Linked DNA regions of Homo sapiens. Each later gene encodes a partner of the first gene's protein in a complex. Each region holds a gene or a part of one and is shown on either strand. Other genes may lie near its edges.

Region 1 (3,950 bases):
ACAGCCAATAAAGAAATACATTAGTTTACACCATTTCCCCATATCATGGCCCCGTCCCCCTGCACTCTTCCCTTTGGAAGGCTGAGTTACAACCCTGTCCCAGAAGATTCAGAATTTTAAATACGTGGTCTGCTGATCAACATTTATTTTTCCTCAAACCTCAGTACTACAGCTATACAAACTACACTTCTAAAATATTTGAAACAGATACTGAATTTATTGGTTGGCTATGAGTAGGAAAATACATCGGTAAAGAAAAAAGACCCTGTATATAAATATAATGCTAGCTAATTACAATTTGACCAAGAAGGTTCCACTGAACAGAACAGTAAAAGCCCTTGTTACTGCCAGTCCGTATGGTTTATTCAGTTCCCATCACCCTCATCAAAGAGCTGTCTGGGCGGATGTGACATTCTTTGAGCTTATAGTGCAGATAATGTGCTGGGTTTTGTTACATGAATGGTAAACAAGAGTTAGTCCAGTGCATCACACAATATAATGTACTGTGAATAAAGACTAGATACTTTTAGACACTACTTCAACATACCAGTTATTAAAATGTATGTAACCAAAAAGAAGAGCAAAGTGAACATCTTAAAATACTGTTTACGAATGGTGAAGAACACCTGCTGAAGGAGTTCTTGGAATTATCTGCAACATCTGTACTGGACATTCTGAGAGCTTCACTGAAAAAACGGTGCTGTCATTGTTTTGCCTAGCTTGGCTTTAGTCCTTATATATGACCCCAAAACCTTACAAGTCAGTATGGAAACTAGTTCCATAAATTTAAATAGTACAAAGTGAAACTCTAAAACTTGAATATTATTATTGAGAACCTGAATCTCGAAAGAGCTTTGAAATTTTAATTTAAACATTTAGAAGTGCATTCCATCCAATTTAATAATGTCCCTAAGTTTGAAAGTGCTAATAATCCCAAGTAAGTTTTCCTGGTTGTCACTAAATCATATTAAACACACACACACACACACACACACACACACACATTTCTGGAGATGTTCTCTGCCTATCTTTGGGACTATGAAAGTTGCACTCAACAATTCATTTCTACAACTTTAGCTTAAATTATGCCATAAGTTAACTTGACGAACAATATTGAAACTCTCAAAGCATAAATAATGACCACTAATATGGTAAAGCTGTACTTCAGGAGATTGGCGACAAGGATTTGGGTGCCTTCAAACTTCTGGTCTTTAAAACAGAAAACATGCCCTAAACTTTTTGTAAGACATTTCTAAAATGGATTTATCCAGCAAAAATACTGAAATGACATTATGGCAACACATTAAATATATTTGTTACAGAATTTTTGAAAAAAAATATACACCGTGAAAACATACTAGTTTTTATTGCATTTTAGGGATTATAGATTATTGAAAATTATTTAGGACACGGAAAATATCTAAAACATGAAACCTTTCTTAACAAAAGCATCATAGTCTATTTTGGTGTGACTGTTCATTACCTACAGACCCCAAATAGTTCTTCCTCTTTTGAAGGTTACACTTGTAAATCTACACTCTTGGTTCAATTTATCACTGTCCAAATAAGGTGGAGAAGCTGTTCAAACTGATCCACAGAATGCAGTATGCCTGGAAGAGGCAAAACAAGTATTTTCAAGACATAACAGGCCATTACATCTTAATATGCTGCCCCAAATTCAAATATATTGTAGACAATAACAAATACAGATGAAGACATTTTGTGTAAAGCTCAAACCTTTAGCATCTAACAAGTGCACTCTAGTTCCAGCATCTATGAAAAGATGACATCCTCCATTAACAAATACAACATGAGTAAGTGCTCCTCCTCTCCCGCTTCCATAAAGCTCTCTGGACCTGTGATTACATAATGCAGATCGTAGGAAAAGCTGCTTCCTCAGTCTCATTAGTCCAACCAGCTCCAGCTCACCTTCACTGGAAATTGTCATGATGCACATTACCAACACAGTGTTCAGGAAAAATGAGTAAACATACCTTTTATTCACACTTTACAAAAAAAAACCAATAACAAAACCCCATAAAAAGTTATGCACTGGTTCTACATCAATACCAGCTTTCCAATGTACTGATTATAAACTGGATGTGTTTGGTGTCAGCACAACTTAAACAAAAAGCAAAAAACAAAACCAAAACATCACAATGAAATCCTAGAAAAAACAAAAAACAAAAAACCCTCAAAGGAAAAAACAGGTCCAAGACCAAGATTCAACATCAAAACCTTTTGGAGAATTTTCTAAAAGGAGAAAAAAAAAAAACATAAGAATCATTTCCAAAATGACTCATTTTCTGTATAAAAATTGTTAGTAAGAGTGAGTATTTTTTTTCCTAATGCTCACATGGCGTCCTTTTGCTCCCCTGCCTGCAGTTGAAACAAAAGCAGTTTGACCAAGCTCCCTCTGCATTCATTTGACTTTTGAGAGAAGAATGAATAAATGAGAGCAGACCATGTACATGTTCACTTTGCAAAGTTAAAGCTGGTTTTCATCTCTAAATGGCACTATGGGCAAAATAGACGGTATGATGTAATTTTTATCTTGCTTGACATACTAAAATGACTTAGTCATTTTAAAAATGATCTGAAGAATTGTCTTAGGGACCTGTTTTGAAAATACATCTAATTCATACTGCTTCATAAATGGAAAATTACTTCTTCTTAAAAAAGGAATGATTAAAACAACAACAACAACAACAACAAAAAGACTAAGGAAAAGACACTGACGACAAAAAGAATTCACATGATAGTAGTATTCTGGGTGACAAGCAGCACACTGCAATGACACCGAGAAGCAGTGCTTGGATCTGGTGAGCAAAGATCCAGGGACTCACCCTATAACATGTTCCAAAATGTGATATTCAATGCTTCACAATGGGAAAAAGCCACAGCTCATACAAAAGCATTTTCATAAAATTCTCACAAATGTTAAACAGTATTTTAAAAATATAAAAGAGGATGCACAGATTTTCTCTGCATGCACAGGCAGTGCTTGGTGAGAACAAATTTAGGCAGGCACAGTGGAGATAGGACAGGAAGTGTCTCAAAAAGAGTTAAGAAGCTGGACCTAAGCAGCTGTAGGTTTTTAACTTTAAAAAGTTAAAGATTTAAAAATATCAGAATGTACATATATCAACCATTACATTCAGTCCATAAATGTCTACAGATCATCACTGTTCAGCTTATCTGTCCTAGTAGATAGTTTTCATAAAAATTCATGAATAAGTTGCCTCTGGTCTGAAAACATCCTAAGGTTGAAGCAGATTTATATGTAAAGAACCATGTTCTCAATTTAAAAAGAAAGTAGTACAAAAGGGCTAACAAAACCCTAAGAGTGCAAATCATGAGCAGAGAAAGTCTGTTGCAGCTTCTTTTACAAGCTGGCCTTTATAACACATGAAACAGGTTTAAAAAAAAATTTAGCCTCAGTTTACAATACAATCATTTCCAAATGATTTTAGTACAAAATTTCATAAATCAGGTCTTCTGTGGATCATATACAATCATAAAGGCTAAATTCAGATTCTGTACTTTACAAACAAGTCTGAAAAAGGAGGGAGTAAAGTATGGAAGAATGATCTCTGGATGTTGCTACTGGCCTCAAAAAAGCAGTGCTACAGATTTCTGTGTGAAGAGAATACGCTGTTCACACATTTTCCTATTTCCAGGCATGAAAATATTCTATTGGGTAGAAGAAATAGGAAAATCTCTTATGACAAATGAAAGACAGGTGCAAACACACCAATCCCTGTCTAGCAGTATAAAGCATATTGGGCTCAGAATTTGTCTGTTGCTAGCACCTGGCTTTCATACTATATCCTTATCAAATAATCAGATTGAAAGTCCAAATCATTCTTAAGCAAGCAAAAATCCTCAGTGGCCATACCTCACTCCCCTATGTTCAGATTTTCACAAGTTTACAAGTGAATCAAGGCTGT
Region 2 (3,600 bases), on another chromosome or scaffold:
AATGCATGCCAAGTTGTTTGTTGCATGTCTATCCTATGCATACCTAAAGATACAGGCTGGGCGCAGTGGCTCACACCTGCAATCCCAGCATTTTGGGAGGCCGAGGCAGGTGGATAACTTGAGGTCAGGAGTTCTAGAGCAGCCTGGCCAACATGGTGAAACCCCATCTCTACTAAAAATAAAAAATTAGCCGAGTGTAGTGGCATGCATCTGTAGTCCCAGCTACTTGGGAGGCTGAGTCAGGAGAATTGCTGAGGCAGAAGTTGCAGGAGCCGAGATCGAACCACTGCACTCCAGCCTGGGTGACAGAGTGAGATTCTGTCTCAAAAAGGAAAAAAAAAAAATACAGATTCTCATTTTACTGAAATGAGTCTTTTTGTAGCAGCTCATTATCTTTTTGTTTTATACCTGTTAAATCTTCTTATTGCTATCATTTCCTTTTCCATTTTAAAGTTTTTCTTATAAACTCCTAATTTACTTTAATTCAAAGAAAACACTTGTAGAATTTGAAATAATATAGCTGCATTTTTTGGGGATTTCTTTAAGAGATGGAATCTTGCTATGATGCCCAGGCTGGACTCAATCCCTTGAGGCTCAGGGGATCCTCCTACCTCAGACTCCCACATAGTTGGAATTACAGGCATGCACCACTCTACCTGGCATCTGTTTTATAGGCTTCTGTGTGCTTTGAATTATGAAGGCAAGCTTTCTGCTTTGGGATGAGAACATGTTTACCAGATGATAGTGTAGTATCACCATGAGTTTGAAGTTCACACAGTGACTTTTGTACCATTTGGTTTACAGTAGATCTTTGACATACATAGGTTTAATATTTGAAGTTTCTGCTGGTCACAAGTGTGACTGAAATGTCCATGGCATGTAATGGCTTCTTTTAAATATTTGCTCGGGCAGAACTCTAAATTGCATAGGTCACCAGGAAGATATATGAAAAGCAGATCACTCATAATAAGTGGGTCTAGCCAAACACCAGGTGTCCCCACCTCGCAAGAACTCTCTATCACATAAGTAGTATTTCTCATAAATTGTTAAAAACTTTATTTTTGTAAGTGGTTGAAGGGAGATTCAGATGCTAGTCCTGGTGAGGTAAGTGAAGAGGCAGTGGAGATGTTTAAGATAAAGTGATGATTTTTAACTAAAAAATATTTTCTGTAAACTCAACAGTAGACTCTCAAATTTGGCAGGGCTAGGATCCATGACAGGAATAAGCCACTCCTGCCCTATGTGGAAACTATGTGAGATGTGAAATTGGTTCAGCAGAAGTCCTAGCCAGCATTTATTTCAGTGGGTTTGTAACTCAGGGATGAATCTTGTTTTATAAAATAGTTGAGTTGAACCACTTCATTTTCCTTTTGTACTTCTATTGTTTTCTGAAAATGAATATAGTATTTGTGAATTTAGGGATTCGTGACGGTTTCCACATTCGTTTCGAAATATCAAAAGGCAACCATACTTTTCCTCCTGCTGCTTCATCGCCACGTAATTTGTTACTTCAGTTATAAGATGCAAAGATAAAACTAGTACAAATCATAGTGGCAGCTGAACAAATAGTGGTAACTAAGAATAGGATGTGTGAGGGCATAGTATTTCATTTTTTCATCAAAAGACTTCACCCGTTTAGGAGTCGTGCCCTTTTGCTGTTGAGTGGCCATGCTCAAGTGCAGCATGGGCAGATCACGGCCAGGCTTTCCTCACTTCTGCAAAGCGAATAGATTGTTCTCTGGCATCATGCTGGCATAGTGTTCTTTCATTGTCTTGTTTGCATTCTGACTGAAACCCTGACTTCCTGTGTCATTCCTGCTTCTGATTTTGAAGTATGAGAGTTCTAGTCACATCATCCTTATTAAGAGATTTCTTTGCATACTTTATTAAGTGAAATGTGTGAGATGTGTAGAGATGTTAGCTTCCTGATAGGAGCAACTATCACGGCTCTCATTACAGGCCATTTTCGACCAGAGTTTATTCGTCCACCGCCTCCACTCCACATTTGTGAGGATGAACTTGCTTGGCTAAACCCCACGGAGCCTGACCACGCGATCCAGTGGGATAAATCGATGTGTGTTAAGAATAGCACTGGTGTGGAGATCAAACGAATAATGGCCAAAGCCTTCAAAAGCCCCTTATCCTCTCCCCAACAAACACAGGTGTGTATTGATTGTAAGCATTTTCTTATCTTTTTTTTTAAATTTATTTTTAATTAAAAAAATTTGTTTTTGAGACAGAGTCTCACTCGGCTGCCCAGGGTGGAGTGCAGTGGCACGATCTCGGCTCACTGCAGCCTCTGCCTCCCGGGTTCAAGTGATACTCGTGCCTCAGCGCCCCCAGCAGCTGAGACTACAGGCATGCACCACCATGCCCGGCTAATTTTTGTATTTTTATGAGATGGGGTTTTGCCATTGTTGGCCAGGCTGGTCTGGTGGCTTCAAGTGATCTGCCAACCTTGGCCTTCCAAAGTGCTGGGATTACAGGTGTGAGCCACTGTACCCAGCCATTGTGAGCATTTTCTTATCTTTAATCCAACAAGAGTTTATTTTTTTTTTGGAAAGTGGTAAGCAATAAACTAATCCTGTCACTGTGAGTGAGCAGTAGGAAGTTGCAAAGGTTTTTGGGTCTCTGAAGCTTTGTTCTACTCTTTGGTAATTTTGCTGTGGTGGGGCAAGAAGTCTGATGGCAAAAATGTTCTAACTTTTCTTTGTGATGTTTGTCCCTGGGAGAGGTGGGGTAGTGGGGGTGTCACTGCTGTGTACAGTGGGACACTACACAATGGTTACGTTTGAGCTGATGGTAACGCTTCTGATGGAAAGTGGAGTTACTGACAGGCTGTAGGGAGGAAAACAAGGCTGGGAAGGGGAACCCGCCCCCATCACACAGCTGGATCGTGGTGTATTTGAGATTAAAGTAGCCCCCACTGCCCGAGTGTGAGACTGGATGACTCTCCTCAGGAAAGGCAAGGCCACTCTTCTATTGGTTGGTGAATTTTATCCAGTTTGCACACTTTTGAGTTAGAACTTTTTAGGAGATGACCTCTCCTATCACGTTTGCCACCAAAAATATCATTTTCAAAACGAAATAATAGCAACGTTTGTAGTTCGCTTTGCTCGCAAGACCATCCTGAAAACACAGTCCACTGTGGAACATATTAAGTAGACGGGGGAAAAAAAGCATAGGACATTTAAAGAGGAAGTGCTTACTTCATAGAAAAAGTCCTTTGAGGATACCTGTTTGAATTACAAAGTGTGGGTGTGACTTGAACTGTAAAGTTCTGCAGACTGATGACTCGCAGCAGGTCAGCTGTCCGGATTCCCGCTCCGGCTTCCCACTCCGCCCCCTTCTCAGGTATTTCTGGTCTCCACCTGGGTGGGGTGGGGCAGGACTGTTTCTTGGGAGAACTAGTTGGTCATTAAGATTATTTTTAGTTACAACAGATGACAGAAAAAAAAAACCTGCAAAGGACTTGACATTGTTACAACCAGACAGTATTTTATCTGACCAGACAGTGTGGAGTCTGGTTTGATGCCCAGGAATAGGAATCACTAGCATATTTATAAACTGTCTTAGATGTGTTTGCATTTTAGTTTGTTC

Evidence for each region. Proteins that work in one complex are often made in the same cells at the same time.
Region 2: CNOT6 (region 1) and CNOT11 share a complex: the UniProt entries of both Homo sapiens proteins name them as parts of the CCR4-NOT complex.

Annotation. Positions count from the first base shown.
Region 1 is NC_000005.10:180,574,218-180,578,167, reverse strand, and holds part of CNOT6 (CCR4-NOT transcription complex subunit 6), read right to left. Parts: 3' UTR 1-3,950. UniProt on the Homo sapiens protein: Poly(A) nuclease with 3'-5' RNase activity.
Region 2 is NC_000002.12:101,262,886-101,266,485, forward strand, and holds part of CNOT11 (CCR4-NOT transcription complex subunit 11), read left to right. Parts: intron 1-1,959; coding exon 1,960-2,162; intron 2,163-3,236; exon of another isoform or gene 3,237-3,600. UniProt on the Homo sapiens protein: Component of the CCR4-NOT complex which is one of the major cellular mRNA deadenylases and is linked to various cellular processes including bulk mRNA degradation, miRNA-mediated repression, translational repression during translational initiation and general transcription regulation.